2 linked regions of the Homo sapiens genome follow. The protein of the gene in region 1 purifies or fractionates together with the protein of each later gene. This does not show direct contact. Each region holds a gene or a part of one and is shown on either strand. Other genes may lie near its edges.

What was found.
Region 2: the proteins of HCN1 (region 1) and ITM2B purify together in Homo sapiens (co-immunoprecipitation; 2 studies listed by IntAct). This does not show direct contact.

What each region holds. Positions count from the first base shown.
Region 1 is NC_000005.10:45,255,221-45,271,234, forward strand, and holds part of HCN1 (potassium/sodium hyperpolarization-activated cyclic nucleotide-gated channel 1), read right to left. Parts: intron 12,034-16,014; coding exon 11,869-12,033; intron 7,591-11,868; coding exon 6,701-7,590; 3' UTR 1-6,700. UniProt on the Homo sapiens protein: Hyperpolarization-activated ion channel that are permeable to sodium and potassium ions. Displays lower selectivity for K(+) over Na(+) ions.
Region 2 is NC_000013.11:48,235,416-48,251,429, forward strand, and holds part of ITM2B (integral membrane protein 2B), read left to right. Parts: intron 1-16,014. UniProt on the Homo sapiens protein: Plays a regulatory role in the processing of the amyloid-beta A4 precursor protein (APP) and acts as an inhibitor of the amyloid-beta peptide aggregation and fibrils deposition. Plays a role in the induction of neurite outgrowth.

The sequences.
Region 1 (16,014 bases):
GGTGGTTTGTCGTTGCTTGTGTTTATTTAATGTTCTCTCGCTTTCCTTGTCTAGCCAAGATCCCATGCTATGTTGACTTGTCATCTCCAGAAATGTCTTCACACTTGGAAGTTCCCTTAAAAAGCCCTTAAAATTTACCTCCTCTAGGACTTACTAGTTCCAATTTTTTCAATATTAATACACATATGAATCATCTGGGGATCTTGCCCAAAAGCGGACTTCTGTAGGTACAGGGTAAGGCCAAGGACTCTGCACTTCTTGTAATTATACTTCTGGGTGATACTGACGCTGCAGTTCCATGCACCACACTTTCCACAGTGAGGCACGCAAGAACATTTAGAACTGCACATTTTAAACAGAATTGTAATATGTTAGGTTGGTAATAGATGTTAGAAGAGTTAGGCAAACAAGATTTAATTTTGAATGCTTGGAAACTAAGACCTTGAACAAATATGAGAAAGAAATGAGAATACATTTGGAAAACTCTTTTTGAATCTTTCAAATTTCTTTGGGTTATGTTCTTTCTTCCTTCAAAAGTAAATCTTTCCTTTCTCAGGAGTTTTCCTCACAAATTTAACAGGAAATAAAAACCTTTCAAGAAAGTCTCTTTGCCTCTACACATCTGAATATTCTCTGTAGAAAACGATGCAACCTGTTTTTTTGCAAAATTCCGTTATTTAAAAAAAAAAGTCTGAATAACTCTACGTTACCTGAATTCAATTATATAATCTATTGGAAACATAAAGTGGTCCTCTTTTGAAGAATTATTATATTTACTAATTTATTCAGATTTCTTCAATTGAATGAATCAATAGTATTCTCTGCTCATATGGTATTACTGAAACAACTACATAGAAAAAAATAGCAGGGCCGGGTGCGGTGGCTCAGGCCTGTAATCCTAGCACTTCTGGAGGGTGAGGCGGGCGGATCACTTGAGGTTAGGGGTTCGAGACCGGCCTGGCCAACATGGTAAAACCCTGTCTCTACTAAAAATTACAAAAATTTAGCTAGCCATGGTGGCGGGCACCTGTAATCCCAGCTACTCTGGAGGCTGATGCAGGAGAATTGCTTAAACCTGGGAGGCTGATGTTGCAGTGGGCCAAGATCCTGCCATTGCACTCCCACCTGGGTGACAGAGCCAGACTCCATCTTAAAAAAAAAAAAAAAAAAAGATGTTTCCCTTTGGGAGTAAATGGCCATTGATGTTACATTAGAAATATAATAGCTCCAAAGAATGTTCACCTTTGCCACTCTTTGGAGCGTGTGTGATATCTCCAATAGAAATTAAAGAACTGGCTTCACTTTTTTGTTTGTTTGGGTTTTTCTTGAGAAAGGGTTTTGCTCTGTCCCCCAAGCTGGAGTGCAGTGGAACGAACAGGGCTCACTGCAGCCTTGACCTCCTAAGTTCAAGCGATCCTCCTGCCTTAACTTTCTGAGTAACTAGGACTACAGGAATACACCACCTATAGTCGGGTTTTCTAAACACTGCAGGTATGTAAGTATATACTGGTCAATTAAAAAAATTTTTTTTCCTTGTAGAGACCAGGTCTTGACATGCTGCCCTGGTTGGTCTCCAATTCCTGGCCTCAAGCATTCCTCCCACTTTGGCCTCCCAAAGTGCTAGGATTACAGGCATGAGCCACCACGCCTGGCCTGAGAACTTGCTTTATTTTAGCCAAAATTATTTTATCACTTCTTTCCCTTCTCACAGGTTCTAGCTCTTATCTTCTTGTACCCCTTCCCTGCCGCAATATATTATCTTACGCAAAGCAAGTAAACTTTCAGTTTCCTATTCCCATTACTCTATTTAGCAAACCTAGGACCTTCCTTAGGACCCAGCATCCTCACAAGGCAGGGTGGGGTTGTAAATAGCCCCCAGTTTTTGCTGTGTCATAAATTATTTTATTCCTTGTTACATTAGCAAAACAGACATTTCAATGTGAATCCTCCCCGTTGATAAGCTTAAATTAAGAATATAAAGTACAACACTGTAAAACCTTTGCCCTGATGTTAAAAGCCTTTCAGAAGGTTTTTGAAATCCCTATTTCCCACTTGATCTGGGTTCCTCTTCACCCTGTGAGACACTCCAGCTGCATTGAACTGCCAGTGTTCCCAATCAGCTGTGCTCTGTTAAACATCCACATTTTAGAAAAGCATGCTTAATTTTTCACTAAATGATAATTATTTCCCCAGCATTTAATGTATTACTCATTCTCTCCACATCAAGGACCTTGTAAACAAATTCAGAGCATTATCTGTAGGTTCTTTTAAGATCATCTTTAAATAATTTTCAAGGTGGGATGCGGGGAGTGTCAGCAAGGCTTCTCTCATTAAAAAACCTTAAAATCTCCATTTGTCCCTGTCAAAGCCTGAATTGGAAGCAGGGTCAGCATTAGGGTGAGACAAGAGATGCAGGGTTGTGCAAGTGCAGGGTTGTTAAAAAGGAAAAAAATTGAAATTGCTTAAGAAAGTCATTGCTTTTGAGGGGTAATAGCAGGTGTACTTCCCTAAGTACAATAGCAAATCTTTCAAAGAAAATTTCTATCCTATTTTTCCTTGAAAATAACCATATTGAATACAGTTATAGAACTGTATTTTATTTATTTGTATGTGCTACAATTTGGTGCATGCAGCAACCACAGTTCCTTAAATTTTTGGCCATTGTTTTCAGGACTCAAAATAGCTCAGCATTCCATTCTATAAGGCCCATGTTTCTTTCCCATGGTACAGTATGAGTACTTTTTAAAGTAGGTGAACATAAAATAAAAGTTTGCTAGTTGTAGTGCATATGAACAAAATAACCACATGGGTTTTATGGCACATGTTCTAAAAAGATAAAGATATAATGGAGAGATATCTCATTCAAACAGGTTAACATTATAAACAGTGCAAGTGAGGGCCATAGAAGCAAAGTAACATAGTAAAATTAACAAATATAAAAACCTAAGCTGAAAGAGGAGGTATGGAGATTTTTTAAATAGTCCTGAAAGATAATAGAGATTGCTCATAATTTGAAGTAGACATAATTCAGGATTTGAAATAAATCATCTAAAATTTTAAACATGTCATATTGTTTAAATCATTCTCTGTCCTATAGGAATGACGGTAATAACTTGACTATGTACTTTGTAGTGTCCTGAAAATAGTATGCTCAGTTAAGTTTATAAATTGCAAAATAACCATCTCTTTAAAGTGGAACAGCATTCATCAGGGAATTGTTCACTTATGAAGAGGTCATCCAGACCTGGAGACAAGCTACTTTTTTGGTGAATAGAATATATTGCCATTGCTACTATTTATCCTCCTTGTTTTCAGGAATGCTTCACTACTTATTCTCATTATGATAAACTCTATCTCAGGCTTTTAGGTATCATTTAAAACCCACTTGTGTGGGGAGGTTCTATCACTCTCCAAATAACTTTGCAGGGCCCAAGGCTATAAATATGAATATATTTATACAAACCTATTTTGTTATAATAGGGCCTTGGGCCTACTATACAAACCTATTTTGTTTAAGGCTATAAATATGAATGTATTTATATAAACCTGTTTTGTTATAATAGAGCCCAAGGCCCTATTATAACAAAATAGGTATGTTATAAAACTATTATAACAAAATAGGTATGTCATAGAACTATTATAACAAAATAGGTTTGTATAAATATATTACAGGACAATTATTTACCATTATTACAGGAAAATTATTTCTCATCTGTATATCCAATAATTACACAAAATGGTTGTGTTTTGAAGTTGGAGAACAACCACATTCTAAAAAGGCACAGAGCAAAAAAGAAAATAAGCTCATATTTTACTATACGAAAAAGGTAAACAAAGAAGTGGTTGAAAAATCCATGTTCTATTTAAAGTCCTCTCATTCCAGAATTATAGAATATAATTGATTTTATGTGATTATCAAGTATAAGCTCTTGGAAATTTTATGATGTAAAAATAGAGGCAAAGCTGTACTCATTAATAAAATAAAACATTTGATTAGCATATATTGATAAAATAAAATATTCATGATTGTAGTTTATTTTTTGTTGAATTTATTAATAATCTTTATATATATTTATATATGTATGGCTTTGAGCAAAGACAAAAGAAATACTCTAACTCATCCCTGATCATACAGTTGTTGTAAGAATCAGCTATTCTATTATCTTTCCAGCAGCAGAAAGACCAATGAATAATACATTTCTTTCTGTACAGATTAAAACTCCATACATACGGGCTTCACTATGTACAGAGAAAAGAGGTCACTTTTCAACTAGCAATGGACCTTTATATTACAGGAATGTGAGTCATTTTTTTTTCTTAATCTAAGTATATATACATTCATACATATATGTATATAATTTACCCTGTACCTTTTTATTAGTTTAATATATAAACCTTAGTTTTTTTGTCCATTCTATTACAAAGTGAATAAAAATTGTATGGTTGCACTGAAAGACCATGCATTTCAATTTTGCTTATGTTTCCCAATAGTGCTCAAAATAAAAAACCAAAAATTTATATATATAAAAATATTTCACTACCAAATCCATTAATCCTATCAAATGTAAACCTTTAATAATTTAAAGGACCAATACGTAATCTTAATAAATTGAAGTTAATTCTCATATTTTAATAAAATAAAGGAGTTTTGTACTGATATGTAAATGGTCTTGCAGCTTTCCCATAGGTTCTAGGTAGACTGAACAATCCCTTTCTTACAACAGTATTCCTGACATGCCATCATATGTCACCAGCATATTGATGATTACATTACATCGACTAGCAGTTAATTACTTCCACACCAGTTGGGATTTGTTTGAAATTAAACATAACAACTCATTTTGGTATTATAGGTATTATATCCACAAAAGGCATAACAGGCAGCAAGGATCCACTTTAGAGTTTCTGCTTTTGTTTTTGTTTTCTGTCCTCAAGTCTATCTGCAGGCCCTGTCCCACATAATGTGTGATCTCTGTATGTTCTTAAATGTATTGCCAGTGCCAGAGATACTGAAGACCTCCACTTTAAGTCATGCTCTTAACTTGGGTTATTTACCGCAGCCAGTTGTTAGGAATCTTTCAATTGTGTTCCAGTCATACTCCACATGTGTGGGATGCATTAGGCACAAATGATTACTAAGGGAGTTCTTTGAGAAGAAGCAGGTGCTCACAGATCATGTAAAGAGTTAAGAAAACAGACAGACAATGCTCATAGACGTTCAACTTTACCCCTGCTTTCTGTCACCATGTCTGTACTATTTTCAACACATTAAAAATGACAAACCTCCTATCTAAGGGCTACGTTAGTCACCACATGCCTTAAAGTTTACTAACCATTTAGTTACAATATACATAGAGCAAAATGTGTGTTCCCAAACAGACGTGATGCTGTATTGAATTTATTTCTTTAAATTAATACCATAGTAAATTACCAGCTACAGTGAAGACACAGACAACACTTAACTCCAAATCAAGCTGTGGTTTACAAATAATTATTTAAATAATAATAGCAATAATATTAAATAAAAGTGAAAACCTCACTTCTAGACTTAAGTCAGAGATCCAAGTCAGCCTTATAGGAATTATAAGATAGGCAATTAATGAATTGTTATGCTTTTCTAGAAACGAGAAATACTGTAAGCCTTTCTCTACAATGACTGATTTGAACCTATTTTTTTTTCCCCAGAAGCATGCAGGGACTATTTTCAGATGCTTGATTATGGCAAGAAGAAAGAAAAGTAACGATTTTTGGTGTAATACAAGCAATTTGTAGATTCGAGCATACAATTTTGCATAAAACATTGCAGGTTAAAATAATATTGTAGGTTTCAAGCCATTGCATTACAATTGAATAATTCTCACAATCAGGTTTTGTAAAATTTAAAACTCTAAGTTTTGAAGTGAAGCAATAAAACTAAATTCTTAAACAATGACTTTTACCTTCATACAACACAGAATAGCTATTTTTATTTGGGTTGAAAAAGTTATTTACAACTAACATTGATCGAGTCTTGGTAAAAGTCCGATAACACATGAAGACAAATATTAATTTTCCCTCAGCTTTCTGAAAGATCAATGAACATGTTTGAGGTTAGTGATATTCTTAACAAACAGTGGCAATGCTAGTCTCCTACGGTGGCCAAGCAAGTAGTGCATTCTTTAACCTAATTTGAAATTGAAAGCACCGAAATACAATTTAGATCTATAAAATGGGATTTGTTATTTAATTCTCCACCATTAATGATTAACAATTTAGATGCAGAGACACAGCTAATGAAAGAAAGTTTTGATTGGTGCTATTTACTAGTTCATTTGAGTTGCCTTTTTAAAATCAGTTTTGTTTCCATTGAATCCAAGAACTCTTCATAAAATAGAGAAATATACATATCAAAGGACTTAAGTAAAAGTAGGTTAGAAATAAATAATCTTACAACGACATTTTAAATCCTTTAATGATTTAAAGAAAGGAAGACATATAACACTGAATGCTAAACAGGTCTTTTGACCCTCTCTTGGGAATTTAGATATATATTTTATAGTATATGTATATATATTTTTACATTTCACGTGTAGGCCACAGCTGTCTAAAATATCTCTTCATAGTAGGCTAGAGGGATCTATCAGGAGATAGAATAAAATAAGATCTGAGTATAGTCTCAGTTTATGAGAGTATTTCTTTCTGCTTTGACAATCAGCAGGGATCATAAATTTGAAGCAAATCGTGGCTTTTCTGCGTCTGGGTCTGTGTTTAAGACTGAGGAAGATTCTCTTGGAAGAGCAGCTGCTGGTGGAGGGGGTGCTGGAGGGACTCCTCGGTTCGGGGGGATGGCTCCCGACGACATCTGTCGGAAGAGGGTGACGCGCTGCGGGACAGTGCTCCTGCCCCCTGCCTGAAGGCCCGTTCCGGGGACCGCCGTCACGGGTTGAGGGATGGAGGCCAGGGACTCGCCCACAGTGGGATGAGGTCTGGAAATCAGAGTGGACACCTCATGGGGCAGCGAGGGCTGCGAGGCGGAGAGTGGCCTGACTTCCCGGGTCAGGTTGGTGTTGTGAAGCGCCTGCGTGCTCTTGTGCACTTCATTTTTCGGCGTGGAGCTGCCAGGTGTCTGTGGCTGCGGGGACGGCTGCTGTGGCTGAGTCTGCGGCGGCTGGGACTGCTGTACCTGCTGCTGCGGCTGCTGTTGCATGAGTGACAGCTGGGAGGCGGTGGGGGAGGCATAGTGGAAAGTTCGAGCGGCCAGAGGGCTCTGTACAGGAGGGCTGCAGACCGCGGTGGTGTAGGAGCAGGGTGACAGGATGGCTGATGGCTGGGGGGTCTGTGTGCTGGGACTGGGGGAGTGCAGGTTGCTGTGAGACAGGCTGGTCGCTGTGTACACCGGTGGAGATTGTGTCCTCATGCGGGAGGTCGGGGTCGTAGTAGACGATGTGGAATTCAGGGTTGTCATTTGAGGATAATTGATGGGAGCGATTGCCTGCACCATCTCCCTGTCATGTTTCACAATCTGCTTGAGGATTTCGTTCTCCTGATTGTTGAAAACACCAGTGTTCAGATCCTTCTGGAACTTTTGCAGAAGAATTGAATTTTTCTTTCCTGTCAGCAAAAGAAAGATAGGCACTTAGAAAGCCTACCAATGACTGATGACAACGCCAAGTGAGAGTGGCTCCTGCAAACAGAAGTATAGCTGTGCTTCACAGGAGAGGCTTAAAAAGCCAGTCACTCACCTTTACACACCAAATACCAATGTGGCTCCTACCTTTCACACTTCCTGTATTTCTCTGGGAACTCTTACCTTCTACTCAAGTTGAACGGCCTGTAATATGGCAAAGAGCCACTTTACAGAAGAAATGGAGATATTTAACATGAGGGCCACCTTGAAGAATGGGGGAAGAAAGGGCTTTTGGAATAGGATGGGCTTGGAATCAACATTTGATTTTAAAGTTACTTTTTCAAGAAAGGACCATGGAGACATAAGCGAGAACATTTGAACACGTACTATGTGATAAGCACTCTACAAAAGACCTTAGGTAGATGATTTTATGTAACCCGCGACCCTGTCAGATAGGTGTGTTCATAATCTCATTTTACCTGAAAGGAGATCAGGACATGAGAAGACTAAGAACAGTGCCCAGGAAAACAAAAAAAAAACATGGTTGGCAGGTAACAGGGCTGAGAAAGACCATATACACAAAAAAGTGATTGCACATCCTTGCTATGGAAAATGAACCAACTGCCCCTGTCTCATCTGTGTGCTTGCTAGAAACTCAGCCTCCTGGGCCTGACCCCACTTGCTGAATCAGATGTTGCATTTTACTAAGATCCCCAGGTGATTCCCAAATGCAAATCTGAGGAGGACTGTATCAGGTTTTGCTTTTGACCCAGTGTCTTACACCAGTCATTCTCAGTCCTAGTTGGATATTTTTCTTATCTCTGGAGCTTTAAAAAATACTAACATCCACTTGTTCCCTACCAATTAAATCTAAATAATCATACATGGGCTCTGAATTTCAGTAGTTTAAAAGCAAATTTCCCCAGGAAATTCTTTTTTTAAAATTTATTATTTATTTATTTTATTTTATTTATTTATTTTTTTGAGACGGAGTCTCGCTCTGATGCCCAGGCTGGAGTTGCAGTGGCACCATCCCAGCTCACTGCAAGCTCTGCCTCCCGGGTTCATGCCATTCTCCTGCCTTAGCCTCCTGAGTAGCTGGGACTACAGGTGCCCGCCACCGTGCCCGGTTAATTTTTTGTATTTTTAGTAGAGATGGGGTTTCACCATGTTAGCCAGGATGGTCTCCATCTCATGACCTTGTGATCCACCCGCCTCGGCCTCCCAAAGTGCTGGGATTACAGGCGTGAGCCACCACGCCCAGCTTCCCCAGGGAATTCTTAAATGCAGCCAAGACTGAGACTGACTTTATGATCTTTCCTCTTCTGAATGGTTGTTGTGAGGACCAAGGGCATAGTGCATTGCAGGCTCTCAGCTCCCTCTAAGACCTCAATAAATTTTACCTTTTCCTGCCATCATCTTCTGAGTGGTTTGCAATACAGCTTTTCCTGCCATCATCTTCTGAGTGGTTTGCAATACTAGACAGTCTCTGGCATAATAATTATTAGAATGAATAGTGGATTGGTGAAAGAAGGGGAAAGTAGTGACTTTTCTATGGCATCATTGATACACTAATCTCCAAGTGAATATGGTAACTGAAAAGTGAATCAATTTGCGATATTGCTAAATAAACTAACACATTAAAGGTAACAAAATATATTTTTGAAGATAAATATGTATTGTAATTTCATTGACTGCTAGGAATGCAATCATTTTAAATGACTGCCAAAATAGTTACCTCTCCCTACTTACAGACTGTCCTAATTTCCCAAAGAACAAAAACTCCTACATTAGTAATAAATATAAATGCTTATTTAGCATATTTGCTTAACTAACTGCAGCATACATCTATATGCAATGGCCACAAAACCGAGAAGCATAATGTTTCTTTCTGATTATGTGAACAGTCAAAATATCTTAATCTAAGTATCTTTAACCTTGGGAAAAATAATGTAACTTTTAATACACTCTTACTATGTTATAAAGATCAAAAATTCAATTGCTTAGTGCCTATTAGAAATTGCATTGCCTGTATTGATTACGAACCATTTCATGTAAATATTGTTATAAAAATTAACTGCAGGCTGGGCGCGGTGGCTCATGCCTGTAATTCCAGCACTGTGGGAGGCTGAGATGGGTGGATCATGAGGTTAGGAGGTCAAGACCGTCCTGGCCAACATGGTGAAACCCCGTCTCTACTAAAAATACAAAATATTAGCAGGGCGTGGCAGTGCACACCTGCAGTCCCAGCTACTCAGGAGGCTGAGGCAGGAGAATTGCTTGAACCTGGGAGGCGGAGGCTGCAGTGAGCCGAGATCACACCACTGCACTCCAGCCTGGGCAACAGAGCAAGATTCTGTCTTAAAAAAAAAAAAAAATTAACTGCAATAAGTTAGATGAAAGTGAAGCTGTATCAGATTAACAGAAATTATCTAGTGAAATATCCTGATTTTAATGTTTTCTCTAAGGATGTCTAGCTGGTTTAGGAAGAAACTCATTGCTTAGAAATTAGTCTCTGTCTCTAACATAAACACTCACACACTACAAAGAGGGAAGTTATTTTCCAATTAAGTAAGGATGCCTTCAGGAGTGCCTACTTCTTTTGTGGGTATTGTCTCCCTGAATGAGTAGGTCTTGTTAAATCTCTAAGATTTCAATATGAATTTCTAATACGTTTGTTATATCTAATGATGATGTCCAAATACTGCCTTTACTTCTAATCTATTTTCAGATCTCTATGCAGTCTGCTGTCCTACTAATATAGAGAGAAAGGAAGATGTGAATGTGAAGTGCAGAAAAAAAGCCAACATAACAATTTATCAATCTGAAGTCCTTACCTTTAATAAGAATGAAGCAGTTGAGGTACCTCCTTGTTTATCACAAGTGATCCCAGCCCCATCTTTTTTGAGTTCATTTATTCCTTCCTCCCTTCCTACCTCTCTTCAACAAATATTCATTGTATACTAGGTACTGTGAATGTAATGGTGAATTAAACATGAGCTCTACATTGACAAATTTAGCATCTCTAGAGCCAGTAATAAAAGCAGTGCTGTGATGGGGGAGCTTCAGAGGCTATAGGAGAATGCATCCAAGGAACTGGGCTTAGTAGGGAGTGGGAGGTCAGAGAAGGTTTCTAGAGGGAGGTGATATCTAAACAGAGAGAGGAAGGTTGAGCAGAGTCGAGCTGACCAAAAAAAAGTAGAGAAGGGGAGGGTGGCAAAGAGGGTTTAGGTGTGGAAAATGAATGCATACTACCTTACAACATAATGTTCCAGGATATCTAGGAATGTTAACAGCAAGCCAATCCAAGCTAACTTTACTATGGCAATTATGCAAATCTTCAAACTAGCATAACTAATAAGGCCTAATGGTTGTATATATATATTTTTTTATTTGGTAGCAGAAAAGACTTTAAAATATGTTGATGTTTGCGAGGTAAAGCATCTATGTAGGGCATTACTATCAAGGCTTTTTTTTTCTGCTTGAGTCTATATTACAAACATTTTATTATGTCTCTGCTGAGATTAATTTAAATGTGCAAATTTTCAATTCCTAATATAAAGATAAAATGTAAAGTTGATCCAAAAATACAAAAAAAGTGATAAAACTTAGTTTGTAATATAGACTCATATATCATATTTTTAGTTCTATTTCAATGCTATCTAGAATTTTTATCATTGCTTTTTACCTGAAGATTCAAATTGTTTTGGCATCAGTCGGGAAATCAGTTTGTTTAGCTAGCAAAAATAGACATTAATAAATAAACCCAGAATACTTAGAAGAGATAGATAGGGACCCAGATCTCTCAAGAAATACGGCTACAGCTAATTGCTATTTCTACACAAATTAACAAGCAAGCTATAAACTGGCATGTGGGATTTTTTTTTTTTTTTTTTCTCTGAGACAAGGTTTCACTCTCTCTCCCAGACGGGAGTGCAGTGGTACCATCTTGGTTCAGGGCAACCTCCACCTCCCAGGCTCAAGAGATTCTCCTGCCTCAGCCTTCTGAGTGGCTGGGATTACAGGTGCACGCCACCACACCCGGCTAATTTTTGTATTTTTAGTAGAGACAGGGTTTCACCATGTTGGCCAGGCTGGTCTCGAACTCCTGACCTCAAATGATCCACCTGCCTTGGCCTCCCAAAGTGATGGGATTACAGGCATGAGTCACCACTCCCCACTGCATTTGGGACTTATAATTGCAAACCTGTATTATGCCAGGAGATTAAATTTTATATAAAGAAGGTAGAAAACTAGAGTACCTATTCGATCTAGTCGGTCAATGGCAACTGTCTCAAAGGCTCTCCTCATCATTGGATATTCCTCCAGGACCTCGTTGAAATTGTCCACGGAAAGTGAGTAAAGACGACAATATGTATCAGCTCGAACACTGGCAGTACGACGTCCTTTGGTCAGCAGGCAAATCTCTATAAAAACAAACAACAAAGAAGAATGACTTGTTTGATCATTTTCTTTTAAAAGCCATTAAGGCTTCCCACAACTTAAAACAAGTCTCATGGTGTGAAAAAACAATTATTAGCAGCATTTTCTATTATATCAGCAAATTCCTTCTGACAAAAATATCCGACTGCCAATACTCAATCTTAAAATAATGTTTTTTTGTTTTGTTTTGTTTTAAAAAAAAAAAAAACAGTTGAGAAGGCCAGGCGCAGTGGCTCACGCCTGTAATCCCAGCACTTTGGGAGGCCGAGGTGGGTGAATCACGAGGTCAAGAGATCGAGACCATCCTGGCTAACATGGTGAAACCCCGTCTCTACTAAAAATACAAAAATTAGCTGGGCTTGGTGGCAGGCGCCTGTAGTCCCAGCTACTCGGGAGGCTGAGGCAGGAGAATCACTTGAACCTGGGAGGCAGAGGTTGCAGTGAGCCGAGATTGTGCCACTGCACTCCAGCCTGGCGACAGAGTGAGACTCCGTCTCAAAAAAGACAACAACAACAACAAAAAAACATGGTTGAGACTTTTGGTTTAAATGCAAGGCTGAAACACAGTATACCTTATCCTTCCCACTCCAATCCTCTGAAATAAGAAATAAAGAAAAAAAACAAAAACAAAAGAGATGCAGAAAATGGAATAAAATGTCCACAAAGGAGTTGAAAAAAGAAAGGGGTGATGATTAGAAAGACGATTTTATGAATTCTGGAAGGCAGAAAGCAGATGGTATAATCTAGGCAGAAGCCAAAATGAGTCCAAACATTGGCTTAGAAAGTCCTATGATCAAACAAAGCTAGACCAGAGGTTTAGATATAGGCATGTCTAATGTAGTTTGTATATTCCCAATGAGATCAGTATGAAGAAAGTGATATTCCACATGTACAGAGGGACTCTCTATTTAAATGACTTTTAAGGGTAATTCCTTACTGAAATTTAGATTTCCAAAATATGGTAAACAAACATTTGCAAATTTGGATTTCATTATTGGCCAGCTGAAGCTATATAGCTATTAAGAGATAATTTTCCATTTTGTTTTCCAAAAATTATGATTTGAACTACTGTAGGCTTTGATTATTTTTAATTTGGAAATAATTTAAACATTTAGCTTCAAAATAACAAATTTGAAAAGAGAAATGATAGAAGTATTTCTAAAATTTAGTCACCTAACAAAAGGAAATAAATATAATATTAAATGTCTAAATTCACACTCGAGCTAATTTAAAGAAGTTCTATTTATGTTGACAAACACTGTGAATAAATCACGCTGTAGACACATGTACGTTCATTTGAATACAATCTGGTAAGAACAATGTCACATATATGCAAACTCTGAGAATACTAGAGAAGGACACGTGAACCAGTCTGGGAAGATAGAGAGGATTTTAGGAAATGTCACCTAAACCATCAATTATGCTGTTGTTCTTGTCAAGATTGAAAAGTAATGTTGTAAACCTGCTAAATAATATTGTGGGGTCTGTGTGTTTGTCTGAATGTTTTTGTGCCTGAATATGTGTGTGTGTCTGTGTAGGAAAATAAATCTATTTTGGTCAATTTTAAAGCAAATTACCATACCATGGAATTTACCTGCTACTGTAATATAAACAAGGTAATTAAAAGAAGCATTTTGAATACTACTCCAAAATTAAATTCCTGTGTCACTAAAGTACTAATGCCATATAATTATAATTTATGATTGCCACATTATGGCAAACAAAGCTAAGTGTTGGTTTCAAATCTTGTGTGGAATGCTAAATGAAAGAAGACAGACATGAGAAGCCACATACTGTGTGATTCCATTTATGTAAAATATTCAGAAAATACAAATCTGCAGAGACAGATAACAGATTAGTGGTTGCCTGAGGCAAAAGATGGAAAAGGGAATTAACAGTAAGTGGGCACAGGAATCTTATTTGGGTGATGAAAATGTTCTAAAACCTGATTTGTGGTGATGGTTTCATCACTTGGTAAATTTACTTAAAGATATTTGAATTCTACACTTTAATGAATTATATGTGTAAAATACGTTGCATTAAAGCTATACAAAGTGAAAAGAAAATTAGTTTTGTTTTTATTTTTTATCTTTATACTTATTATATTTTCATTTGAATTTATTTTTTCTGAACTCTTTCTCTTTACTCTGGAAACATTGTTTTGTCTCTTTTTCTAGGTCTTTCTCTTGTGTGTTGAATGTTTTCTTTTGGTAATCTATTGATGTCCAATCACATTTAAAGATAAAAAACTCTGGTAATGTTGCAGAATTTGTTAATTTAAAGTTTTTCATTAGGGTAAATAGGCGGGGAGCTTGTCCTCATATTTCTCTAAATACCAGAATGAGGAGGGCTTTACTCTAGGCCACTGACATCTCTCTTAACTGTCCTAGTTCTCCCTCTCATTCAATTGCTTTATGAACGAACCACTGACATTTCCCCCCACTATCCTCAGGTACATGGTTGGCTACAGACTATTCCGCAACATGGAGGGAGGGATGTCTCATACCTACCATCAGCATAAGTCACCCGCTTTCTGTTCTGTCTTCTGTGGTCCTGTTGTCTCTTAACTAAGAGCCTGTTTAGTATTCTTCCAGGATACCTGCTGTCTCCTTGGCTCCCGTTCTTTGTACGTATATTCCATGTTCCCTCTACTTTCCCTTCAAGGTTCATCAGTAACCACCAGCATACATTTAAATGCAGGCTACAGAATACCTGAATAGCACTGGTTTATCCAATACATTAATGTCATTATATTACAAAACAAAATTTGGGAGTAGGCAAGGCCAGCATTTGTTCAGCACTTCAATGATGCCAAGGCACTGTGCCCATAATACTTTTGTTTTCCTTGGCCTTCTTCTCATGATCACAAGTTGATAGCAACAACTACACACATTCATATACTCACACAACAGCATCCAAAGTTTGGGGAGACAGCAAAAGACTTTCTTCCTATATTTCTTTCTTTTTATTGTGAAGGCAAAAGTTGTACTACAGGTCCCTAACTTACTTTCTCTGGCATTTTATTATCAGAACTGCATCATGTGGCCAGCCTTAGCTGCAAGAAAGGATTTAAAACGGAATATTTGGTAAATCGGAATAAGGTAACTACTGTTAGTGATTGAGTTAGGTAAATACTGGTTTAATCCCTGAAGTAGTATATGATGCCAGCCATACAAGATTTTATTAACAAGAAAGGGCCATGGTTGCTGGCTATGGAACCAATGTTATCTGGCACTTCACTCATATCAAAAGTATTTTCTGTCTTCTAGAAACATGTCCCTTTGTCTCGTCTCCTGGTTGCTCCCAAATACAAATTCATGCATCAGGTTACTTTGTGGTTGAGTTTATATTTTATTCTTTTACTATTATTAATTGGGTCTCTGTAGAGGGATGAGATAAAGGCATGTCCTGGGAATCATCTTAAATAAGAAATGTATTTGTCTTATGCTTAGAAATTACTTGGAATTATTTTTACAAAGAGCATGTGTTTATATATTATTTTTAATTTTTAAAAACAAGTTTAAAAATTAGAAATAAGAATATAGCTATTCTCAGTATGCACAGTCATTTTACAGATATGTTAAAAACAGATTTACTGGAGCATAGATATAAGTTTAGTCAAATTTTTTCTAAACCATTATTTACAAATGATTTTCTGGCCTCTGTCATCTGATGATCTCATATAATGAATATATAACATATGTAGCATATGTTACATAGTATAGGTACACATTACTAAGTAATCATGGCTTGAATCAGTTAAATATTACCATTGGTAAGAAAATCTTCAAGGAGGATGCTTTTAAAATACTGTTTAAAGCCTACATGAAGAAATGTGTACGTGTGTTATGAGCTCTTAACCCAAAGGTTTTCTATGTTGCCATCTCAGTAAAACTTAGATGTTACTGTTCAGCAAATCTTACCTCTTCATTACATTTTGTTTAAAAAGATAATGTACTTATTTT
Region 2 (16,014 bases), on another chromosome or scaffold:
TAAACCACCCAGCAGTCACGGATGAGTTGGTAGATAAAAAATGACTAATTCTTTTTCCAGCTATAAGCTGAAAGACTTCTTTAGGGGATGACAAAATATTTCTCTACATTAAAAGTAGAATCCTTATAATCAGTCAGTCGCTTAACGGGAAAAGGAAAACCTTAATGACAGACTTTTGTGAAAGAAGTTCTGATCTCTTCATTTCAGAGCTTGGGCAGTGATTACATAATGTTCTCTGGCTCCTTGCGGGTGGCTCTGTGGCAGCCACCTTGTCTGACTGCCTGGACTGGGAACAGAATCAGCCTTAATGTGTTTTGCCGAGGGCATTTCCTTTGCCTGGTTGGTTGAAAGAATCAAACCAAGCTAGTTAATGGCCTAGAACTCCTGAACAAGAATTTTTCTTATCTTTAACCCTCCCAGATCACAATATCCCGCAGACCATTGTTTTCCAAAATGTGCTCTTAGGGACCACCTGCTCTGGTTTTAAAATGCAGATTCTGTTACCTTATGCCACAAGAATTCTGATCACTCTAATCAGCTGGCTTATATAACATGCATTCCAGTACTTTTACATTGCTCCTGTCTTTCTATTTTTTTCTTCTGCAGGGTGAGAACTCTCCAGAAACAGTTCTATTACCCCATTTTTCAGTCTTATCTTTTCAGCAGCTATTAATCCTAACAGCCATTTCTATTGATAGTTTTATCTCAACTAGCTTGCTGTTTATTCTTTTCCTGCATTTTCCCCTTAATTGTTTTCACCTTCCTCCTCTCCTAGTAGGCATAAAGCTCTTAGAGCTATAGAGACAGCAAAGATGGGATGTATTTTGGGTAGCAGAAGTGAATTTGAAATTATATACATGTTTTATGCTATAGGCAACAATTCATATATTTTTGTGGCAATACTTTGAACCTTGGGAAATTGTTTTATATTTGCAGATAACAAAATACTTGATGTACTGTATCAGAAGTCCCAGTTTTGTCATTACATAACTACTTGATCTTGGGCTTAAATTTTTAGGTTTTCTGTCTGTAAGATGAGAGGGTAGGACCAGATGGCCTGTAAGGATTCTTCCAGTTTCAAAAATCTATGAAGATGCTAGGATTACATAATTATATTTGGCAGACATTAAATTGTTTTAATTGTGAAAAATAGCAACTACCTCCTCACTCTAACCAGACTATTCCCTTTCTTCCTTTTGGTGTTTAACATGTTACATTCTTCCCTCATATCAAGTAGCAGTGGGTCAAAGAGAAAGGAGATGGGTAGAGGTATTATGTAATAAAGCACATTGTCACTTCTGTTTACCTCACAGTGAACAGTGAAGTTGTCAGCACCTCTTTGTTGCAATGCCTGCTTATGAAACCCCTTTTCCAGTATCAGGCCACAGAATAGCTTAAGCTTGCTTCATATGTATCCCTGCAAGTTGTTTTGCTGACAAATAGTGTTGCTTTCTCTCTACCCCACTTTGTAGATATTCTTTAAAAGGAGAGAGAAAAGTAAAGTGCTGATATAGGAGAGAAAATAGTGGCAGGGTGAGTGCAAGAGAGAAAGTGAAGGCCGACTCACCCAGTAAAAGTTTTGAGTTACCCATGACAAATGGCTGTTTAGACCCTGGTTCTTTACCCTTTCTGGTTTTCCCTATTCACACAATCAAGACTGAAGGTTTTGATAATTAAGCTTTTCGTTTGTGGTGGTGGTTTTGTTTGTGTGTTTTTTGGGGAGTGAGGAGAAGGGACATAAAATGCATGGCTGGCCATTTACTATAATGTTGATATAATGCTCTCAAGGGATTGAGAGCTTGGTTCTCTTTAACCAAAGTGCATCTTATTACCTAGTTATGTAATTCCGTGTTTGCAGATATTGGCCAGTGAAACTTTTACATTACATTTTGGTTCTCCATGAGGATATTAATATCTGAATTGAGGGTTTAGTGCTGGGAAATAAATGAATTGCGTCTGTGCATCCCAAATGCCTTGGCAGGACCTCCTGTGTACACATCCCTGACAGGACACTGCTGTAGCATATTGGGTGTGCAAGGTTGCATATTGCACAGGATTGTAGTCTTCCCAACTAGACAGAAATGAGTATAATATACTTGGCATAATAAGCCTGAGTGACCTCATGGAATTCAACTCTGACATATAAAAGGTTTATGTGACTGGAAGTATTTTTTAAGCAGAAATATCTCAAATACGTTTATGTTACAGGCCTATTTAAATTAATTTAGAATTTGACTTACAAGGTGTTTATTATGCATTTCCAAATCTTGACTTGTGGGTAAATGTACATAGAAACATGTACTAAGTAGTCATTGGGGGAGATTTTATTTCTCTTAGTTTTATCATACCATAACTTAAATGTCTGGCGTGTCTATTCAAAACCCACATTCTTTTTCCAAAAGGAAATACTACTTCCTGAATTCCTAGATTTAACTAAAGCTTCTTGTACTGCTTTGTATGTCAGTGTCAGTAAAGGAAGACTCAGAAAAAAAAATCTTTTTGGGTTACCAGTAAAATCATCCTCTTAAATTTTTTGGCAAACGTGGCATTTTATTAGAGCTTAAAGACTAAAGGAAAAGAAATTAAGGACTTTAGACCGTTACTGAAACCTGTTAAAGGATTTGACAATTCTGAATTTCTGAATGAGGTGATTTTTGCCTAAATGATATACAAAATATTAACACTGGAGCTGTGCTTCACAATGAAAGTCTTTTCCAAAGTAGACAGCTGAAAGTTGAAAATTGGAAATTATAACACTAAGGACATCATTTTTGAAAAATTTCCACTTAATTGTGATTATCCCTTTTAATTAGTACTTACAACACATATTTTTAATAGCTTTAAGGAGATCTACAATACAACCTCATTTTATAAGTGTTATCAACAATTGAATGAACAAGATTATTTTAAATTATTGTGCATTCTTTAAGCTCTTTTATTAGAGGAAAAAACTTTTTGCAGTATTTCTATAATTGTACTTGGGGAAAAATCAGGTAAGAATGAACGTAGACTTTTTATTCTTAAACAGAAAAGTTTGAATCTTGAGTTGTAGCGATGAGGAAATTACCCTTGTTTTTATGGTAGAGATATATTCTGATTTTTCACTTAATGTTTTATCTTTCAGTACTGATAAGTTACCAGCAATAATTTTATGATGTTGAACTAACATAAGTACGACAAAAGAGAAATAAAATTTTCACAGCTTATATATAATACCACTTCTGAGTTAAATATCCTGGACGTTTATTTGGGAAAGTGATACTAAGTATGGTGGTGGATATTTTGTACTTTGAAATTTTGAAATATTTGCATAAACCGTTTTTGGCATAGTTGAATTTCATACTTTAAAAAACAAGTTTGGTGGATTTTTGTGTTTATTTGAATGATTAACTTTAAGGCTCAAATTATTATTTTTTTTTAGTGAAAGCAAGTTTATTAAGAAAGTAAAGGAGTAAAAGAATGGTACTGCATAGGCAGAGCAGTCAAGATGCAAATTATTTTTAAAAGTTGTTTGTTTTCAGAATGAGTTAAGGATAAAGCTTAAGTCTTAACTATTTTCTCTGCTTATATATGATTATAATGTTTTAAATTATTTTATATAAAAATTTTAAAAGATGCATTGTTAATTAAATCACTTGAATCTCTGCAGTATCCAAAAGCAGACCCATTTTTATGCTGGGGAAAATGATTTTTGAGAGCTAGTCTATTTAGCTTTGCATTATCAGTTTTCAGTTTTTCATTTTATATAACTTTATCCAATTCATTTTTTCCTCCCTTTAATACTGGGACATAAAATTTCCTGTCTATCAGTTTTACCTAGGGCCGTGCTAGGCATCTTAAGCAGAGAAGGCAAATTCAGTGTCTCCTGGGCTGAAGCAGATGAATTGTTGAAGCTGGACTTTTTGCATATGAAACAAGTAAGAATATTCTTGGTTTTCCTGCCAGGCGCAAGCCACCGCCTGTAATCCCAGCACTTTGGGATACTGAGGCTGGTGGATCACCTGAGGTCAGGAGTTCGAGATAAGCCTGGCCAACATAGCAAAATTCTGTCTCTACTAAAACAAAAATTAGCCAGGCGTGGTGGCATGCGCCTGTGATTCCAGCTTTTTGGGAGGCTGAAACAGGAGAATCGCTTGAATCTGGGAGATGGAGGCTGCAGTGAGCTGAGATTGCGCCATTGCATTCCAGCCTGGGTGACACAGCAAGACTCTGTCTCAAAAAACAAAAGAATATTCTTGGTTTTCATTTTTAAAACATGAGTCCAGTGTTGCTGGATCCTCCAATTTTCCAAGGCAAGCTAAAAATCAGTACTATTTTAATTTATACAACAATTTTAGCCCAAAACACTGAAGGCATGGGCCACTATTTTATAATCTCCTTTAAAGTGGAACGCAGGACTGGCAAATTATAGCCTATATCTTCAAATACTGCCTGCCTGCTGTTTTTCTGTAGCCCATGGGGTAAGAATGATTTTTATATTTTTTAATGGTTGGGAAAAATATCAAAGGAATGATATTTCTCCTTTTTGCCCAGTACCCTCACTGAATTGTTGGGGAGGGGCTGCTGCTATTCAGGAAGCAGCAGCACTAGCAGAATTCAGGTTATACAGTCATTCTTCAAAAGATTTAAATTTTGTCTCTATCACTTACTTTGATACCTTGGGTAAGTTACTTCAGTTCTCTGTGTCTCAGTTTTTTCATCAGCAAAATAGGGAAAATAATAATCTGTAACAATAATAGCACAATGCCTGGAACAGAGTTAAAAATTAGTAGATTTCAGCTACTGTTATTTTTATTTATTTTTTTGTTGAGAAACAGTCTTGCCCTGTCACCCAGGCAGGAATGCAATGGTGTGATCTTGGCTCACTGCAGCCTCTGCCTCCCGGGTTCAAGTGATTCTCCTGCCTCAGCTTCCCAAGTAGCTGGGATTACAGGCACCTGCCACTATGCCTGGCTAATTTTTTGTATTTTTAATAGAGACGGGGTTTCACCATGTTGGCCCGGTTGGTCTCGAACTCCTGACCTCTTGATCAACTACTATTATTAAAGTCCCAGTTTTCTCTCCTCATCATTCTTGTTTTGGAATATTACTTCTTATATTACTGTTACTGCTTATCCCTGCCTCACATGTCAGTAACAATATTGTTGGTACTTTTTTCACAGCAAGGCATTCTGGTAAAGATTGATTCCTGCAACATAAAAACCCTTAGGATTCAGTAGCTGTACCGATTTCATTTAAAAATGTTATTTATTCATTACATAATAGGTGTTAATAGAATTTGAGTTTTACCAAAGTAATACTAAATTTTAATATGCAAATATATAGTCCTGCCCTATGTCAGAGGAACATACTTTAAAAAAATTGTAGCATCATTGTATACAGTAAAATGCATAGATCATGAGTGTACAGTTAGATAATTTTAAGTCTGTATACCTGGGCTCTAACTCCCAATCAAGCTGAACATTGTTATCAACTCAGAAAGTTATCTTGTGTCCTTTTACAATTTGTTCTCCTTAGAGGTAACCACTATTCTAATTTTTCTCCCCATAGATTAATTCAAAGCAATCATATTCACTTATTAGCTTCTTATGGTCTTTTATTACCATGGTGACCACTAGACCCTCTTCTGCCTTTGTGCAATTTAGAAAAAGATCCCCTCTCTGGTGGTTTGGAGAATAGAGCATCAGTTGGTTTCTAGACCTACTGATTCCCTTGGCCTGGCATCCTTGTACTGGAAACAACCTGCCCAACCATACATGGCGATCTTAACTCCATGTTTCTCACTTTTTGCCCCAGTAGGGCGTGGTGCGGCGGGCAGCAGAGTCTTGCTCTGTCACCCAGGCTCGAGTGCAGTGGCATGATCTCGGCTCACTGCAACTTCCGCCTCCCAGGTTCAAGTGATTCTCCTGCCTCAGTCTCCCGAGTAGCTGGGATTACAGGTGCCCACCACCACTCCCAGCTAATTTTTGTATTTTTAGTAAAGACGGGGTTTCACCATGTTGACCAGGCTGGTCTGGAACTCCTGACCTCAAGTGGTCCACCCACCTCGGCCTCTCAAAGTGCTGGGATTACAGGCTGAGCCATAGCACCTGGCCCTCCATGTTTCTCTTTTAACTCCCTATTTCTCTAAATCAGTGGTTGTTAAACATTTTGCTCTGAGAACTCCTTTATAGTCTTAAAAATTGTTCAGGATCCCAAAGAGCTTTTGCTTTATGTAGGTTATATATATTTCCAAATAACCAAAAAGATTTAAGAAGACTAACAGTAACATTGTTTTACATTCGGCAGTGCCCTTTATTGAATAGCTTAATAGAAGATAGCCGGATTTTCCTATCAAATTCTTCATTCAGTCTGTTGTGATATGGTGCTTAGCTTCTGGAAAATTGCACTGTACAATTTTTATTGTATATAAACATAGCGAGAGAATGAAAGTGAAAATGACAGTTTTATTATTTAAACTAACACAGTCTTAGTTTTATTATGAAAAAAGTTTGACCTTGTGGACCCCCTGAACGGGTGTGTTCCTGGACCACATTTGCAGAACATCTATTCTAAATATTTGCTTATACTGCTGTTTCATGGTTTGTTTTCATTTGTTTTATTTTTTGCAGTTTTAGATAATACCTATTGATAATAGCTACATGGAAGGTGAATATTTAGCTTTTTCTGAATATTTACACACTGCACACATGATCTCTTCTCCTGTTCTAGCAATTTCTGGTTAAATTGATATTTAGTGTTTTTTATTATAATTAACATAAACATTAGTTACATTTGAGTATTGTAGTATACTTTTATTTTACTTCCATTCTTGTATAACAACTTTTTATTTTCCCTGAATTTGATCATGCTTCTTGGGGCAGGAGAGAGGGTTCCTTAATTTTCTACATACTTACTGCTCATTCATTCCTCAGACTCTGACAGCAGTATAATTGTCTTTCTGTGTCTTCAAACTCACCAGGTAACTTACCAAGTTTCTTTCTTTCTTTCTTTCTTTTTTTTTTGATGATTTCTTGCCCATCATTCATTAGTTTTCTATTCCAGACTGGTTGCACTCATACAAATGTCCTGAGAGTCATAATCATCTTGGAAGAATTGCCTTTGTCTTTATCACATGCTAGATCTACAGTTTCATAAATCTGAAGAAAAAGATAAATTTTTAAAAAATCTTACGTGTCTCAGAATCGTTATTCCATCCTCATATTTGATAATTTATCTGGGTGTAAAATTCTAGGTTAGCATTCATTTTTCTCTCAGCATTTTGATGGCATTGCTCCATTATCTTCTAATGTGATGCCATTCTGATTCCTTGTTTGTACATGACTTTTTTTCCCCCTTTGGTTGTCTACAGGCTGGTGATTTTCTCCTTATATCTTTTTTTTCTTTTTTCTTTTATGCTTTCAGCTTTCAACATTTTTATTGACATGACTTGTCTGCTGTCATTCATTTTCATTCTTTGTGGCTTAAGGTTTATTTGTTTTATCCCTTTACTGTCGCTTTATTGAGCTTTCAGGAGGAAGTAAACAAACATTTCACTGGAAATCAATATTAGAACTTCAACTTAGCTATCTTGATAGCTTTTTAAAGATTTGTTAGAATATTTCCTTTTACATTAAAAATTGACTTAATGATAATTAATAATGGATAATAATGGAAACCATCTGAATTACCATTAGCATTAATTTAAGATCAGACAGGATGGTCTAGAAAGATTGATGAGGCATCCTCTGATCGTCCTCTTCAAAGTTCCAAGATTGTCTCCTTCATGAGGAATTTTAGAGGCAACTCATTACCAACTTTGTAGTTTTGCTTTGTGGCATTATTACTCCAACTAACTTAAAAAAGTTTCATTTTTGTAATTAATATGTTGCCTTTTTCATTTATGTTGAAATGCTTATGTGCTGGTGTGCCTTAGTTATTTTCCTTTATTGTTTTAAGTTCACATGTATGTGATTTTAATACTTTTTGCTACCATCCTTTGTAATTTGTTGAACAACAGAGAAAAGCCCTATTAATTTTGACAACATATTAAAAGTAATATTACTGCCTTTGTAATAGTTCACACATGTAGGGCTTATTAGTGTGGGTCAATTTAAGTAAACCTTTTACAACAGTAGAAATTCATGCTGTGGGCCGGGCATGGTGGCTCACGTCTATAATTCCAGCACTTTGGGAGGCTGAGGCAGGAGAATTGCTTAAGAACAGCCTGGGCAACATAGTGAGACCTCCACCTCCACAAAAAAATTTAAAAATTAGCCATGTGTGGTGGTGCACATCTGTAGTCCCAGCTACTTGGGAGGCTGAGGTAGGAGGATCACTTGAGCCCAGGAGGTTGAGGCTGCAGTGAGCCGTGATTGCACTATTACACTCTAGCTGGGGTGACAGAGCAAGACCCTGTCTCAAAAAAAAATTAATTAATTAATTAAAAAGTATATATATTTAATAAAAAAAATCAGGCTATGTGGTTTCTGGTTAGGAGTATTATCCAAGTGTGACATGGTGTCTGTCACTTCATTTATTACCAGAGTTAATTTGCCTAAGCTGTTTGAGTCAGTTTCCTTAAGCAGCACATAGAGTCAAGATAATATTCAGACTTTATTAGCTCTGTGATATTACATAAATAATTTTACTTCTCTGGGCCTCATATTTATCTGTAAATGATGTATTGGATTAAACTACCTTCATGGTACTTCCATAGGGGATCTATTCCTGAGAACTGTATTGATCATATATTCAGAAGCACCTACTGGATAGCCAGGTACTATACCTGGAATTTAAAAATTGCTAAACACCCCAGCTTTCAAGAAACATTGTGTAGCTAGGGAAGACCAACCAGTTATGAAAACCAAATTAGTCACAACCTATTTAAATGCCTATATTTATTCTTAGAAGAAAATCACACCGCTGGATCCAAGAGCCAGGAGAGTGGTGGAGTAAGGGAGCAACATTCAATATTACCACTGAGTTTTTACTGCACATGCCTTCAGTGCTAGGCAGTAGGGCTCATAGGATCAAAGCACTTCTCACATGTAGAGAGACAAGTATTCCTGATCTTTAGAACTATTTTTTCTAGTAGTCATCTTGTTTAACATTTAGAATTCCAAACTTGGACAGAAATTTTCTCTTAACTATCCACATTTAAATTATGTTATACTTTCAGATGAATATACTTGGAATTTTCTTACCAAAAGTTCTGCATTTTAAATGAAATTACCCATATTTGAATATGAATGTATAATTATCTTGTTGAAAGACATTAAAAGCCAGCATTTATATAAAAGTGAGTCTAGAACAGGTTTGTTCTTTTTTTTCTTTAATCTTGACACTGAATTTTATAATGAATTATATAAAATTAGAGCATTCGAATTGTGCTTAAAATTTTTAGGGAAACTGTTGATACTGGTAACAATGTGGAGTTTCATTCAGCCAGTGGTAGAGAAAATCTGTCTTCACCAATTTATCCCGGTAAAGGATATTATTAACAATAAATAACATTTGTATATAATGCTGTTGTTTATGAACATTTACCTGTTTGTGCTAATCTAGGCTTTTTGCTATCCCAGTGCCTTTTACTCACCAATATGAATTTGAAATTCTGCTAAAATTTCACTTTATAAAACGGATACAAGGCCGGGTGCAGTGGCTCATGCCTGTAATCCCAGCACTTTGGGAGGCTGAGGCGGGCGGATCACTTGAGGTCAGGAGTTCGAGACCAGCCTGGCCAACATGGTGAGATCCCGTCTCTACTGAAAATACAACAGTTAGCTGGGCCTGGTGGCATGTGCCTGTAATCCCAGCTACTCGGAAGGCTGAGGCAGGAAAATTGCTTGAACCTGGGAGGCAGAGGTTGCAGTGAGCTGAGATGGCACCACTGTACTCCAGCCTGGGTGACAGTGAGACTCCGTCTCAAAAAAAAAAAAAATGGTTACAGTTCTGTTCAGCATAGATTGAATAAACACAGTAGAGAAATGATGGTCATTTTTTAAACTATGTAGAAAAAAGAATAAGAGATTTTAAACTTATTATTCATATAAATATTCTACTTTGCACTAATCTGCTTGTCTCTGATACAAAAGTGATTAAGTTATGATCCAGTTCTAAATGCATTGCGTTGATAATCTGCCTGTTGTTTTTTTTTTCAAGTTCCAACCTATTTTTATTTAACCTAAAACTGTGCTAGTTTTATGTGATGCTAATAATTTGGTTCAAGTTTCATAGATTTCTGACAGTAGTTACATTATTATGCAGTGGCTTTAAATTTTAATTTTTTTTCATTCTATATTACTGCTTTTATATTGCAGGATTTTTTAACAAAAAAGTATGTTAATGAGGAATCTGTTTTATAGACCTTGTAGTTTAAGTTCTTTTTTTTTTTTTTCGAGACAGAGTCTTTCTCTGTCGCCCAGGCTGGAGTGCAGTGGCATGCAGTCTCTGCTCACTGCAAGCTCTGTCTCCTGGGTTCACGCCATTCTCCTGCCTCAGCCTCCCGAGTAGCTGGGACTACAGGCGCCTGCCACCACCCCTGGCTAATTTTTTGTATTTTTAGTAGAGATGGGTTTTCACCGTGTTAGCCAGGATGGTCTCAATCTCCTGACCTCATGATCCACCCGCTTCAGCCTCCCAAAGTGTTGGGATTACAGGCGTGAGCCACTGCACCCAGCCTAAGTTCTCCTTTTTAAAGCCTTCCCCTGTTCGAATTCCAGTACAGAATAATTCCATAACTTCATTAATCATAACATGTTGGTATAATTCCCAATTTTGACTGTAAATACTAATTTAACTTAACTAAATGAAATCTAATATTGACAGAAGGTCAGAGGCCTTTGTGAAATAGAGTACTCACAAATATAGAGAGCAGCTTTCTGTGTAATGCCAGACACTAGGAAAACTGCTTCCTTTTTATGTGTCAAACATTTATCACGTGGACTTCCTCACTACAGTCAAGACAGCAGCAATCTCATTTCAAAAGGCAAATTAAAAAGCAAAATTCAGATACTGATTTAAGTGAATAAGAAAAAATGCAAACAAATGTTTGATGTCCTCATGGATTGTTAACTTCTCAGCCAGAGATTTTGTGTCTTACATATACCAGATATATTTGATAATCAGTGCAGTTAATAATTAGCGGATCACCACATCATGTCCTTTTGATGCTTTCATACTGAGGAAAGAAACCTAATGTAGAAACCAAATGAATATGTCCCAGTGTACAAAACCCAGAACTCAAAACCCTTTATATGGAGAAGTAGTTTAGATTGATTATTTAATATAAATAGGATCCCAGAAGGAAGTATACCCAGTCATAGCTGGAAGTGAAGATCAGAATTCAAAACCTATATTTGGTCTCCAAGTAGAGAGAAAAAAAAGATAAGAGAGAAGTTGAAAATACTAGAACATTGATGGGAAATTTAGTTTTTGGTTTTGTTTTGTTTGAGATGGAGTCTCGCTCTGTCACCAGGCTGGAGTGCAGTGGCATCATCTCAGCTCACTGCAACCTCCGCCTCCTGGGTTCAAGCGATTCTCGTGCCTCAGCCTCCCGAGTAGCTGGGATTACAGGCACAAGCCACCACACCCAGCTAATTTGTGTATTTTTATTAGAGACGGGTTTCACCATGTTGGCCAGGATGGTCTCGATCTCCTGACCTTGTGATCCACCTGCCTCAGTCTCCCAAAGTGCTGGGATTACAGGCATGAGCCACTGCGCTTGGCCGGGAAATCCTAGTTTTTAAAAGTGCGAATCACTAAATTTTTTTAATGTCCCAGCTGTTTTGCTGTTTTGGAAAGCATTATACCAGCCAAACAACACATCTGTGGGCAGCTGTCCTATGCACCCCCATATTTACCTATGTTACCCAGCATGTTTCTGAGTAACTAAATCTATTTCTGAAGGTTCAGTATATTTTGAGTTGAATAAATGGTATTGGTTCTTTTTTTATGTATATTTTTTGATAATATAATTTTTAACACTAAGAGTTGTTTTCCTCATTAGTATCCTGATTCCTAAAGCACTGTTGTTGAATTTGATACAGAAATGTAAAATATTGTATCTGAGCACTTTGAAAAATGTCTCTTAAAAGCTTCAGTCATCCTGTAAAAAAATGTTCAAATAGAGGTGCCTAAGAATATAAAGTGATTTGTTAGTTTGAGAACAGAATTGAAATTATACGAAAAAATATACATTTTATTTAAGTTTATAATTGAAGCACATTTACTAAAGCCTCTTAGGGAACTGATTGAGGTGACCTAATTCTTAACTAATTGAAGTACCAGAAAAGAATTTGTCCTTCATTTTGTTTAAGATATAACTTCTTAAGTAATTTTATTTTATTATCCAATGCTGAGATTTATTTGAACTAGAAATTAGTACTGTGCCAGAGTGAGAGTGCTCCTGAAAGCCAGGTCTTTCTATATCTACTGTTGCAAGGTGGTTATAGGCCAGCGTGTGCTGCAGTGTCTTCTTTTATAAACTGGGCTAAAAAACTTGAGGTTTAGGAAGATTAATTAGATGATAATTGTACAGCACCTGTGGGAGTTCTGTTACCTTTTAAGCGCGATGCAAGGTGCACCAGTTTTATTGCAGTAGAAGGGAGGAAACGTCTCGGTGACTTGTTTTAAATTAGGCCAGGTAAAGTTATATACCCCAGTGAAGAAGCTCTTACTTGTTAGTGGTTTTTTTCTTTTTAAAATTATGAAATATTTCAGGCACACAAAATACAGAGAACCTGAAGTATATTTTATATGTTTTGAAAGTCTTAAATATCACATACTTACATAATACTTAAATATGTGGTGTTATATGTTGTGCAACGTGCCTTTTTTGGGGGGGTCAGCAATTATGTTTCTTAGGCTTATCTAAAAATCAGCAGTGCTAGTACTTTTTTTTTTTAATTTTTATTTTTTAAAAGAGATAGGATCTTGCTATGTTGCCCAGGCTGGTCTGGAACTCCTGGGCTTGAGCAGTCCTCCTGCCTCTGCCTCCCAAAGTGCTGAGAGTATAGGCACGAGCCACTGGGCCTGGTCACTAGTTGAATCTTTTTAGCAGTATTATATGAATCTATAATAATTTATTTCGAATTTTTTTTTTGTTGCTGACAATGTAGTGTATATTCTTGGACATATTTCCTTACATATTCAAAAGTTTATCCAGGATTTATACCTAGGAATGGAATTGCTAGGTCATAAGATAAATGTATGTCAGAGGTGTCCAATCTTTTGGCTTTCCTGGGCCACATTGGAAGAAGAATTGTCTTGAGCCACACATAAAATACACTAACAATAGTTGATGAGCTGGGAAAAAAAATCACAAAAAAAGTCATAATGGTTTAAGAAAGTTTGTGAATTTCTGTTGGGCCACATTCAAATCTGTCCTGGGCCACACACGGCCATGGGCCACGGGTTGGACAAGCTTGATGTATGTTTATTAGATACTGCCAAATTGTTCTCCAAAGCAGTTGGACCTAAATTTCTGTCAATTGAGTGGAAGTTCCCAAGTTCCCTTTGTTACACACTTTTTCTAGCACTTGGTGTTAGACATTCTTTTATTGCCTGGTAGACAGGAACTCAGTTGATTTCTTCCCCACCCTCCATATCAAAATATAATTTACATGGAATAAAACTCCTGCATTTTATGTGTACAATTTGATTGAATTTATGGTAATTGTATAAAGTCATATATCCACCCCAACAATCAAGATACGAAAGATTTCCATCACCCAAGTAATTAGTTTCCTCATGCCTGTTTGTAGTCAGTCTCCCCTTCCCCAGCCAGTAAGCTGCTTTTGTCATTATGGTTTTGCCTTTTCTAGAATTTGATAAAGATGTGATCATATAGTGAGTAATCTTTTGTGCTAAACTTCTTTCACTTAGCATGTTTTTGAGATTCAGTCCCGCTGGTGTGTGTTATTTTGTTCCTTTTTATTGCTATCTATTTCATGGTATGAATATACCACAATTTATTCATCAGTTGATGGATATTTGGGTTGTTTCTAGTTTGGGGCTAGTATATAAATAATGATGCTGTAAATATTCATGACTAAATTTTTGACTCAGTTGATTTTTGATTATTGATCTTTAAAAATCTTGCCACCCTCTAATTAGTTTAAATAATTTGACTTTCTTAGATTTTCTACATAGACAGATTATTTACAAATAATAACAGTTTTTTCTTTTTTCTAATACCTAATCTTTTTATTGTTTGTGTACTTGCTGTAGGATCTCTAGTACAGTGTTCAGTGGAAACAGTCAATTTTAGTGGGCATTCCTGTATTCCTCAATTAAAAGGGTATGGTGAAGTATTAAAGTTTCACCATTAAGTATGAGGCTTTCTATAGGCTTTTGATTATTAGCCTTACTGATGTTAAAGAATTTCACCCTTTGCTAGTTTGCAAAGATTTTTTTTTAATGGAAGTTGAATTTTGTCAAATACATTTTCTGTATATTTTGAGATAGTCATGGGGTTTTTCTTCTTAAATCTCACGTGGCTTTTTCTTTAAGTAAAGCTTACTCTTTGAAGTGTTAAAATTTAATCACTCTAAAAACACTTTTAATAAATCTCTTAGATTAAAAACTTTTAAATCTTGAGCATACTTTAATCCCTTCTCCATGACTCGGATTGTATTATGGAACATCATTTATCTATCATACGTGATGTTAATTCTTGACTATAAATCGCTCAAAGTAGGAGCCATGTCTTAATCACATTTGATTTCCCACAGGATCTAGCACAGTATATTGCAAATAGCAAGCCTTACTTAATAAATGCTGAACTAGGCTACTGCTCTTGCTAAATAGCCACAGTTTGTTTTACGTTATGAATTATGTTGCATCTCTCCCTTCCCTTATTATCACGCTGGCTGCTGGTATAACTTTTATGAATCATAAAAAATTAAATAACCAGGCTTTTTAAAAAAATAGATCTAAGTTGGCCGGGTACGGTGGCTCAAGCCTGTAATCCGAGCACTTTGGGAGGCCGAGGCGGGTGAATCACGAGGTCAGGAGATTGAGACCATCCTGGCTACACGGTGAAACCCTGTCTCTACTAAAAATACAAAAAATTAGCCGGGTGTGGTGGCGGGCGCCTGTAGTCTCAGCTACTCGGGAGACAGAGGCAGAAGAATGGTGTGAACCCAGGAGGTGGAGCTTTCAGTGAGCTGAGATCGCGCCACTGCACTCCAGCCTGGGCAACAGAGCGAGACTCCATCTCAAAAAAAAAAAAAAGATCTAAGTTTTATTCACTCATCAAATATATGAGTGCCAGCTAATGCCAAGCCTAAGCTTGGCTTGGAGCTACCAGTAATGCAAAATGAATATGAATGGATACTTAAAAGATCTTATAGCCTAGTAGAGAGAGATAAGATCTTTATGTGAATTATTCTCATGAAAGAAAAGTGATAATTAGGAATTTAGAGAACAAAGATTAGATAGACTTTGAAGATTAAACAGCTCTTCTATGAAGTACATGATGGTGGTGCATAGGTTTGGGGTCTATAATTTGGCTGACCAAAGACTCTTGTTTATTTCCTGATTCTTAAGCCACGTTTCACGTTGTTGAGGTGCTGAATAAATTGACCTGTGGATAAGTGAAGTATTTGTAAGTGAAATTCCTCAAGAAATTGAATTTTAAAAAAATATTCAATAGTGCTGAGAAGTGATTTTTGAATGAACATGAGAAGTCAAACTCTAGCATGGTTTACAAAGGTCTTTTGTGACCTGCACCAGCTTCTTGTCCATCATTTCTCATACTCATCTCCACCATATTGGGCACTCCAGCCAAAGCACATGTGGCTCTTGGAAATGTCATGCATTTTAGCTCCATAAATTTTGAAAAATCATTGCCATATATAAAATTTCCTTTAACTCTATCTTCTGCTGAGGTAATGAGTATTTGTCCTTTAACATTCCACTAAAGTATTTTCTCCCTTGGGAAGTCTTCCTGAAACTCATCCCCTCTTATGTGCTCTCTGTGCATTTTCCTATTAGAGTTTGTATCATATTTATTTTCTTTTTGTATATTTA